Regions from separate parts of the Homo sapiens genome. Here region 2 is linked to region 1. Evidence: fine-mapped expression QTL. A gene starts in region 1. The other region holds a variant in brackets. All regions are shown on one strand. Distances are from middle to middle.

Region 1 (5,393 bases):
TGCTGGGAAGTCCAAGATTGAGGTGCTGGCAGATTCAGTTCCTGGTGAGGGATCTCTTCCTGGCTTGCAGGAGGCTGCCTTCTTGCTGTGTCCTCATATGGTGGAGAGAGAGTCCTCTGCCACCTCTTCCTATGAGGGCACTAATCTTATCAGATCTGAGCCTTACCCTTATGACTTCGTTTAACCTTAAATGATTCATTAACCTCCTTATAGGCCCTATCTCTAAATACAGACACATTGAAGCTCAGGGCTTTAATGTATGAATTTTGGGGGGATACAACTCAGTCCATAGTCTTTAAAGCAGCAGAGCTAGGACTTGAATCTAAGTAGTGTGACACTGGAACCCTGTTGTCAACCCTCTTACAGCTGCCTAAGATTTTCATGGATGATTGTAAGGTTGGCTCAGTTTGTCTTGCAAACCTTTCCACCTTTCTTTCTCTGTTCCGTGCTTTAGGTATATTCCTCTCACCTGACTCTACCAAATCTCCATGTTGTAGGCCCTCAGTGTTCATCTCATTTGTACTAAAGATTAATTCCTTCCAAGGGTATTTGCATATTTATGAACAAAATGTTCCAAATAAGAGCTTTGCCCCACATAACAAATATTAGCTTTTAGAGCATAAAGGCAGATGAGACGTATTTTTAAGAGACTCTGTCCTCATCTCTCAGATCACCCCTTAGTGAAAATTGTAGCACTTTGGAATATGGGCTTGTAGTACATACATTTCCTACCAAATTAATTTTTTTCCTTATTAATACCACAGAACACTATTGTTTAATCATTTTGTTTAATATCTACCTTTCTCTTTTTATTAACATTTATTGAACAATTTTTGTATGTAGGACATAAAGTATACATTTAAAGATAAAAGATGTTCCTTGCTTTCAAGGAAATTGGACATTAGCAGAGAAACAGATTTGTATACAATTAACTATTGCCCTAACTAGAATATATTAAGTCTCAAAAGAAGAATCTAAAAAAATGATATGACATTTCAGAGAATGAAATCAGATAATATAAAATAATTTTTATTTTATTTTATTTTTTTGTGAACAGTGAGATACTCCTGAAATCTTTTGAGTACCTAGGTAGCTTGATCCAATTCATTTCCAGAATCACCTCTCTAAAATAAATGGGAGGCTGAAGGGGAAGAGAGTCTGGTCTATTATAATTTTCCTAAGGTAAATCCTAAAAGAAAAGAGATGTTCTAAACAGTAGAACACCTTTGTAAGTCAAGGATTTGTTGTTTGGAAGTCACATTCCCCTTAAAAGATTACTGTTTCTCCACCCTTTATCACAAGGGACACTTTTGATCATGATATTAGTGACTGGCATGACACAGGCACTGACAGAACAGGGAAATGACCAATAAAAATAGACTAGGTCAAAAATTTGTAATTAACAGGTGTGACCACATTGATATGGGCTGGCTGGATGTCAGAGGTACTTTTGACCCTTGTTTTGTATCCAGGTATCCCATTATTTGAAAAATTTTACTTAACACATTTCATGAGTTAAGTAATAAGTATTTTCCAGTTTCTTAATTGAATGATGATCTATGATTTACATCAGCTTAAGGTCAGTATTACAATGAATTGGTACAATTTTAGTAGTCATTTATAAAAATGGGTGAGTCAGTTGGCCTGAGTGGGTGGCCTTATATTAAGCAAATGTATAATTTCCATTTGGCATTTTAAAATATTAAGAATAAAAATTAAAAATATTTACCTAACTTTATCAGATTCCTAGGGTACAGTGGACTGCTGTCATCCATTAATAGTGATGATTTAATTTATGTGCCTCTTAGCCTGAAAATGTTTTTAAAATCAATCTCTCTCTCTGTCTTCCTAATACACACACACACACACACACACACACACACACACCCCACATATACCTGTATACATATCTGTACATATCTATAAATATAGATTTTACGTGAATATCTTTATAATTGATGTATTCTTTAGTTGCCAAGGTATTTACCACTCCCTTTTGCCTTACACATTTATGTTACTTACCTGGCTTCTGAAAACGTATGTGTTTTTAATTCCTGATTTAGACCGTTATATGTTTGTGGTGATATCACTTTGTCCATGTCAAAATTCAATTCCAGTATAATGAGTCATGCTGTGATAGAGTTTTTAAAATCTATAATTGGCTTCAACTTTTGAAGCACTATTAATTCAGATTTTACTATTTATATTTGGCAATTTCTACTTGAGTTGAATTCATCTTCACTTCCAGTACACACACATTTCATTTTAGTTCAAAGATTTGCTAACTCTTTCAAATGCTAGTATTGATCTTCAGAGATTTTAAAAAGCACATTTGACTTTTTGTGCCATATAAAACTTCTCTTTTTGACTTTTGTTTCGATTCTTCCTTTTACTTGCCTCCCCTACTCCTCCACTGAAACCAGTTCTCTCAAAACTACCTGCCCCCAACCTCAGCCAAAGGAAAAAAAAAAAAAGCATCTGTGATCTTGAGTACTTGGTGATGGTGCCCTTGACCCATATGCACATGCAGGGACCAACAGGCAATGTTCTTGGTGCCACCTTGGTTTGCCTGTTACCTTCCTGCCCACTCCTTTCCTCCCCTGGGACCACTTGCTGATGCTGCCGCAAAGTCTCGTCTAAGAAATGGCAACATTGTGCCCTAAATGTGCTGGCTTTCCCTTCCCATTGTACTTTGTAAAGATCATGGGTAATTTTTGTAAGGACAAAGTAGTAAAAGGACAACCAGAAGAATGCTGAATGGTTACAACCTCAGTGGCAGATATAATGTCTTTTTGATGAACATTAATGATCTAGGGTATACTTCAGGGAAAGTACAGTATTACAAGGACTTCGAGAGAGAACATTATGACCGGCACCTGTAATTCTTGCCCATATTCACAAGAACTGAATGTCCTCGTGTGCTGACTTCTGCATTGCATTGCTAATGTTAAGTAAGAGAATGGATGGGAAACAAATGGTAGCACTTGGGGACATTTTTCTTTCTTCTCTAAAGAAAAAAATGGCAAATGGTGGTGTGAATGCAACTTGCCACAGAACATAAAAGCGTAAGAATTCTGGCTGTTTGAGGTGAAAAAATAAGTTGATTTTTCTTTAAATTGTAAAAATTAGCTCCAGGTTCTCTCAGGAGCTTAAAGAAAAAAAGCTTTGAGAAATGGGAGTGAATAGCAAGATAGGGTTTGTGTAACAAGTTCCTCAAACCACAGAGGTCACATGGGCTCTTTCTGCTTTGCTACTTTTGATTACTTGTCACAGTTGTACTTTTAGCTTCCCCCATCCTGCAAGGCCACTCAACCATGTGCTAGCTGGAGTGATCTTTATTCACAATGTCTTTACAAAGGCTCCTGCAACACAGCAGCAATGGCAATTTGGCGGACTTCTGCGCTGGGCCAGCGTATAGCTCTTACTCCACACTCACCGGCAGCCTTACGATGGACGATAATAGAAGGATTCAAATGCTAGCAGACACGGTGGCTACTCTGCCTCGGGGACGAAAGCAGGTATGATTGCTATTTTGTACCCTTTAGAGTGTTCACATTCTCTTGAGGGCAGAGTGATATGTTTGTCTGACTTCATACTAATGGTGATATTTTAGAGGCTTTGGAATTACTGGCTGATTATTATGGGTGAAGGAGGTGAGATGCTCAGGGAGCTAGGTGAACCAGTCCAAAGATTTGAGACCACAATCAAACTTTTTTTTCAAGGCAAAAATTAAGATTGTTTTTCTTATTTGAAGAAGTGCTCAGGTAAAATAAACATCATTAAGCATAAAAAACTTGAAGATGGTTTATATAGATACAACCAGTATGAGAATTAATTCTCTTTTCCCCATTGTGTCTCCACTGATTCTTTCCCTTCCATCCTTACTTGCAGTCCTTGATGGTCATTTCAGTTCATAATCAAATAAGAAATACTTTTTCTGAGGACAAATTTTGTTGACTAATTATCTTCAGCTCTGGGTTGCTGGCACATACCTCAGGCTATTGGAAAGTAAGATTTTTTTTTTTTGGATAGATGAGTGCCAGATTGAATATCAGCTCACCACTTAGTGTCTGTGGGATCTTGAGCAAGCCACTTGCCTCTCTAAGCTTCAGTTTTGTTTTTTCTAAAATGGAGTTAATAATAGAACCACCCTTATTGGGTTCTTATGTTGGTTAAATAAGGAACTGTGCAGTGCCTAACACAGTGACTGGCATTCAGTGTGTGTTTATTAAATGCTAGATTATGCCATTTTAATATTTTTATTGCAAAGTTTGTCTCTAGGGATGAAAACTCATTTGGAAAAATCTATGTCTAACTGAATTTATTTTGATTTTTTCGTTCTTCAATTTCTAACATGTAAAAATTTTTTTTTAACCATAATACCTCTTCAGGATTTTTTTTAAACAACTTGCTCTAAATCCCCAGGTACATATTTGAATTTCGATGTAGCATTTCTACAGAAAATATTTAGAATTGCCCTAGAGCAAGAATTTTTGCGCTTAAGTCTTGCATGTACAATCATGTGCTTCTCGTAAGCCTTCTAAATTCAGGATTAGAGAGGTATGGCATAGTGGGAGAGACATGATCTTTTTTCAGTGATGTATAATAGCTGATTCCTTGGTATTTTTCGGAGTGAAGATAAGGGCACAATTTTCCATGATTTGGATTATTGATTGTTCTCAATCTAAAGTGCTTTTATGATACAAAGTTTAATGTAATGATGAACATTTTATCAATCTACAACCTGTCTGAAGATAAAGCAACATGAGAAATGCTGACATCTTTTTTCAGTTTTCAGATATAAAGCAGTCAGATTTTCTTTATATTTGCCATGACACTATCACACCAACTATGGTTCACTTGATTAGGCTATGATTTTTTTTTTTTTTTTTGCTGGAGACTGTGGGTACTTTTTCAATCAGGGTGGGAACTTTCCACCCTCTATGTCCTCCATACCTGCAACCTTACTCATTTGATCTACTCTCTAGCCCATGCAATTCAATGCAACAGATGGTTTCTGAGCACCTACAAGGAGACAGACATCATGCTAAGTGTAGGAGGTAAAAAGACGAGAAGGGAATGTTTCCTACCCATATACTGTTTACAATTCAGTAAGCAGAAAGAATGGGTTTTCTGCAAAGTAAAACAACATGAATACTCTCATCGAAGTGAAACATCTGTAAATATAGCCTTGGAAATAGATATTCGAGATATTGAAGGGTATTCCAGATATTGAAGGGTATTCCAGAGCAAGGGAGAAATTGAAGCTGAGGCATAGATCCTGGTGCCTGGAGGACTTTTTTGTGTAACAACACAATATTAAGTGTGTCAGGAGAACCTGGTTAGTGTGTAGGAGGTGAGAGGAGATCTCAGCGCTGGGCTGCTTTACAGAA
Region 2 (5,358 bases), 29 kb after region 1:
GAGCTTTGGAATGGCTGTATTTGGAGGAGGGGTAAGGCAAGTCAGATCCACTACTGCGTATCATGACGCAGATGCACATGCACACAGATGCACATGCTCGAAAACAGGCACCTGGAGATTTTAGAAAATCATTGGGGAAGATTGCCTAACTTTCCTTCTACTTCAGTGAATGAATTACATTTCTGAAAACAATCACGGCTAAGGGGCTGTATAGTTTTTAGAAGCTATTAAAGCTGGAATGGTTGCACACTTATTGGGTAGAGCTCCTGTCTTTTGTTTAAATTGCATAAGTTGCATTTATGCAGAGAAATTCTTTTTCATGGCCCCCAAGACAAAGACATAAATGCGTAAGATGAATACAACAGTAAATGCATAGCTCTTGCCATTGAGTGCATTTTTAAGGGAAGGGTTGAGTTTAAAATGTGTTAATTCGCTATTTGTTGTATGATAGATGTAACCAAAGGAATGAACTTTTGTGTACAAATAATTCACTGAAACCACTACGTGGGTGTGAAATATAGCTTATCTCTTCTTTAAATAGCACCAAGCTTAAGTCTGTAACCTAGAATATCTGTTAAAAGTGATAATCAATTTGTTTACCAAAAAAGATAACAATTTAATCCTTAACTAGTCACTAATTTATGGCTTAGAGTTCTGGTATGAACTTCTGTTTTTTTTTTTTTAAATTGAAGTGTTTGAAACTTATGTACAAGTTACTTCTCTTTTTTATGTCTTCATTTAATATTTTTAAAAAATTCATAATAGTTCTTTTGGGTAGTGAAGTTTGTTAGAGAGGCAGAAATATTTAATACAAAAACTTCTTTATGGCCTTGTAAATTCAGCCACCTCCTTGCTTTCTTTAGACATGAGGGCTTTTTAGCCTCATTTCCACTTCTGGAGCATCCTGAATGGCCCAGTGAATATAAATTCTTGCTGTTCTATAGAAACAGCCTTGTATAGACAACATTGTTAGGTCAGGATCCTCATAAAGTCATTGTTGTACATATTTTTTGAGCAATTGAAGGAGTTCTGCTTTTTCTAGATGTATAGTAAACATCCAGGGCATGTGATTCTATAAGGCAATTGCTCTCCAATCAAAAGAAATTCATCACTTATTGCAAGATGAAATGAAGTAGGTTGTATTAGCAAAAAGGAAAGCATTATGACTAGTCACCATGGGGCTGGCTGTACTCAACCTTGCAAATCATCTGAAAGAACAGTTTCTTTTTATATTGTCAACCGAGGACAAAAGACAGCAGCAGTGGAGATAATCAGTACAAAATAAAACCATTTTAGAGTGTACAGTATTCTATTATTTTTTCTGAAGCATAGTCACTTACTGATTACGTTTTTCCAAGGCTGGTATTACAAGTTCTCTCTCTCTCTCTCTCTCTCTCTCACACACACACACACACAAGATACCAACCAACTCAGTTAGTGTGGAAGCAGGGAGGGTCATATTGGTATGTGATTAACATTAGAGTTTGAAGAGCCAGATGTACGTTGTTAAGGATCAATGAAAAAAATTTAGCCAAGCAGATAAAATTCAATTTCTTCAAATAAATTATTACTTACTTGAGGACAAGGATGATTTCTGGGTACAGTATCATTCCAGAGAATTTAAGTATTCCAAAACGAAACTGGGAATATTGAGGTTGGAAGATACATTTGATTTCACAAATCCTTTCTCTAAGAAACACTTTTGAATTACCTGTTCCATAACTGTTTTCTATTTACTTCAAATGGTTTTATAATAATTTTAGAATTATTTTTAAAAGACAGTACCTAAGAATCAGAGAAACTAAGTGGAGAAAATCATGATAGTATTTCCCCAAGTGTATTCTATGGAACCCCATTTCTGTGAGAATTTTAATAAAAGGTTTCAGGGTTATTTAAATTTAAGAAATGATCATTTTGGAGGTTCAGATGCCACACTGGTAGACTGTCAATTGGGCTGAACTGTTCTCATATGAAACATCTTGTTTAAATTTATTCTAATATTATAATTTTTGTGACCATGGAACCTTGGTCTATGAACAATAGTTCAGGAAACCCTACTATAAGGTTTATCAAATGGTCTCATAAACAGTTACTTATTCAAGCACGCCAAAGCTCAGTGAAAAGTATTTTTCACCCTTACTCTTTCTCGTGTCATTCAAAGAGAAGTTTTGATGTAGTGTATTTATTTGTAGGGAGTAATGAACAGATCCATTTCACAGTAGACTTTGTGCTCTAGGTGATGCAGCTAATTGCCCCAGTTTGGAAAACATGGACTTGGATGAATTGTCTTTGTTTGGACCCCTGCCTGGGCCAGGCCCAGCCCTTGTGGACCGGAATCGATTATCCAGTGAGAGCAGCTGTAAGAGCTGGCTGAGCTCCATGACGATGGACAGTGAAGATGGCTACCAGACGTGTGTGTCTGAGGACTCCAGCAGGGGTGCCTTCAGTCGGCAGACGAGTACAGATGATGAGTGCTTTATCCCCAAGGAGGGGGATGATTTTCTGAGGAGGTCATCTTCAAGGAGGAACCGGAGCATCAGTAACACCAGCAGCGGATCCATGTCTCCCTTGTGGGAGGGCAACTTATCAAGCATGTTTGGGACCCTGCCCCGGAAGAGCAGAAAGGGAAGTGTCCGAAAGCAACTCTTGAAATTTATCCCTGGCCTTCATCGTGCTGTGGAAGAGGAAGAAAGTCGCTTTTGACGGATTGTGGTGTCCTTTCAAATTAGCTTATTTCACAAATATCTCTAGACTCACCCAGATCCCAGCTTGGTGGGAAAGTGCAGAAGAATTGCAAAACTGACATCCCATTTCACAGCAATAGTGACCTTTATTTAAATTGTTGTGTTATAGTTTATGCTTCTTAAATCATTTTTCAACCTAAACAGCCAATTTCTAAGCAGACAGGAAAACTAAATAATAAGTTAATTAATATAACAAAGATGCAGGTTCCTGCTCATTCCAGTAATGTCTTTGAAAGCAAAACTAATATTTATTTTCTAGATTATCCCTGTGAATAATTGAGAACTTTTTGGAGTCAAGTATGAATAAAGGTGTGGCAGAATATAATAATCTGGACTATTTTCTATAGGATAATTGCTGGGTTATAAAATCTTAGGTTTGCTTATGCCCAGTAGCTCCTGCGGAGGCTTAATAATAGGCAATTTTGAATTTGTTCAAACCTGTAATGGCTTGTAAACAAAGATGACCATCAGCTGTTTCTCACATCTATAGTGACAATAAAGCGGGAAGTATAAGATTTAATAGGAGGGGTTAAGGTTCATGAGAACCATGGAAAGATGTGGTCTGAGATGGGTGCTGCAAAGATCATAATAAAGTCATTTTTATAGACAGTCTAAACAAAATGGGTGGGGATGTC[G/A]TGTTTTTTGCCCAATTCAGCTTTTGTTCTGCCTGAACATTAATGGCAAGTCTAGAACTCTCCGAATCCTACAGCTTTGTAATTTTTTTTCTACAAATGTCTAACATCCAAAACTGAGGGTTGGGAAAAGGACTTCCCTCCTGTAGTTTTTTTCATATTACTTCTCACTTTATATCTTATATTCTAAATAGCTATCACCTCAGCAGTCTTTTGCCTATTGGTTATGTTAGTATCACATTACTTCTAGCCTTTCAATTACTCCATGTTTTATTTAATATCCATTGAAGTCTATGAATTCTCTGTTCTGGTGGCACAGCTATTCATAACCTATATTCTAGAGTAGACAATCTGGACTATGTAATAAATAGTCTGCTGATTTTAAGTTCTCTCTCTCTCTCTCTCTCTCTCTCTCTCTCTCTGTGCGTGTGTGTGTGTGTTTGGGAGAAATAGAAACACTTCAATTTAAGTAGAGCTGCTAAATTTAATTAAACTTCTGCTTAAGAAATGAGTTATTTTGAGATAAAAGAGGGTAGGGTAAGGAAGCATCTAAGATGAGAAAGAAATGATAAAGTATGAAAAGATTTCTAGTTGGGACTTGCCTTCTATTAACTCTTTGAACTGAGAAACATCCAGTGGCCTGTGCATGACAGTCACTCATATGAAAGGCAGGGTGTCACACCTTTCACAGAAATGATAGCAATACTGTCTACCATTTACTGAGTACCTAGTTGGCTAAAGACACTTTACGTATGATCCTCACAATTACTATATAGTAGGTGTTAGGCATACAGATAACAAGTCAGGAATTTGGAAATGTTCTCAGGGTCACAAGGCTAGTCAGTGGCAGGGCTAAAATTGGAAGCCAGTTCTTCCTTGCTCTAGTCTATTCCAGATATCTTTTACTCTTTTGGTTCTGTTTAGTGATCATCACAGTACTTTTTATTCCACCCAACAGGAATACTTAAAATGTACAATTATAGATGCTGCACAGATAAGAGCATTTCTTTGGGTAAATAGGAAAACAAACATTTCTCTGTTCCTCATATACAAGTTTCAGACATAGGTTCTTTAATAACTACATGATTAGCAGTGCATTTATTTTCAACAAGAGCTTGCAAACCAGTTATGATTCAACTGGTATTGCTTATTTCTCATCATAGTCTAGAATCATCCTGTTAAAGGTCTACTTATATGAATTCAGCATTTCTTGTTATCCTATTTCACAAAGTCCAGGGGAAGGAAACACCACATTTATTTGAGGAAAGATGACTTTGAAATCTTCTACAAGGTGAAAAAATGCTTTGAGAACTACACAGAATGACATAGGTCATACGGGAAAGCAGACCATAGATCATTTGCTTTTCTTGTGATTTTAATACAGAAGTGTAACACTGCTGTATGACAGTAGACCTCAAATGCAAAAAAGGGGCAGGGAAGGGACGGAGCAAGCATCACTTTAGTTTGCGGTAAGAATTAGAGTCGAGGTATGTTCTGAGAATAAAGAAAAAAGTACTGGTTAACCAAAGTACAGGAAGGAAGGGTATGTCATGTTCTATATTTCACAAGCTGTAAGAAAATTAGCTTTTGTTTAGTAGAAATGTGGGTAAATTTCTCACAGTATAACTTTCAGACTAATTTATGACTTCAGTCAGGCTTTAGAAGAAACTTCTGGTGCATAGTGATTCATTCTGATATAATTTACTAGGGAAAAAATTGAAAAGTGTTTTTTTAACTTGAAAGTTCTCAAATATGTATTACTGGTGAATTCCATTAATTGACAACCTGTTATGAAAATGCATTTTTCTAGAAGGGCATTTGATAAACCAAATTTGAATCAAGTAGATTGGGAATTACTTTATCATGTGGCTGAAGAACACAACCATGACAAACAGATTAGTAATATATTTTTGGAAGTGAACTTTTATTTATGACTTTCTACCTTGTAATAATTTTATATCTTAAGATACAGATAGCATTTA

What was found. PIP is the estimated chance that this variant, and not a neighbour inherited with it, causes the effect.
Region 2: its variant is fine-mapped to the expression of CYTIP in whole blood (TOPMed, PIP 0.96). The same link has a PIP of 0.9 or more in NK cells.

What each region holds. Positions count from the first base shown.
Region 1 is chr2:157,441,972-157,447,364 of GRCh38, reverse strand. CYTIP (cytohesin 1 interacting protein) reads left to right here and starts at 3,276. Exons shown (of 8, transcript NM_004288.5): 1 at 3,276-3,518. The coding sequence starts at 3,345. RefSeq lists enhancers at 3,426-3,475, 3,516-3,615.
Region 2 is chr2:157,413,022-157,418,379 of GRCh38, reverse strand. It overlaps CYTIP (cytohesin 1 interacting protein), which reads left to right. Exons shown (of 8, transcript NM_004288.5): 8 at 2,237-3,761. The coding sequence ends at 2,703. Among named protein-coding and RNA genes, the nearest start is that of CYTIP, 28 kb to the left of the region's middle. RefSeq lists an enhancer at 4,629-4,678. The variant G/A (reference allele first, on the strand shown) is at 3,380.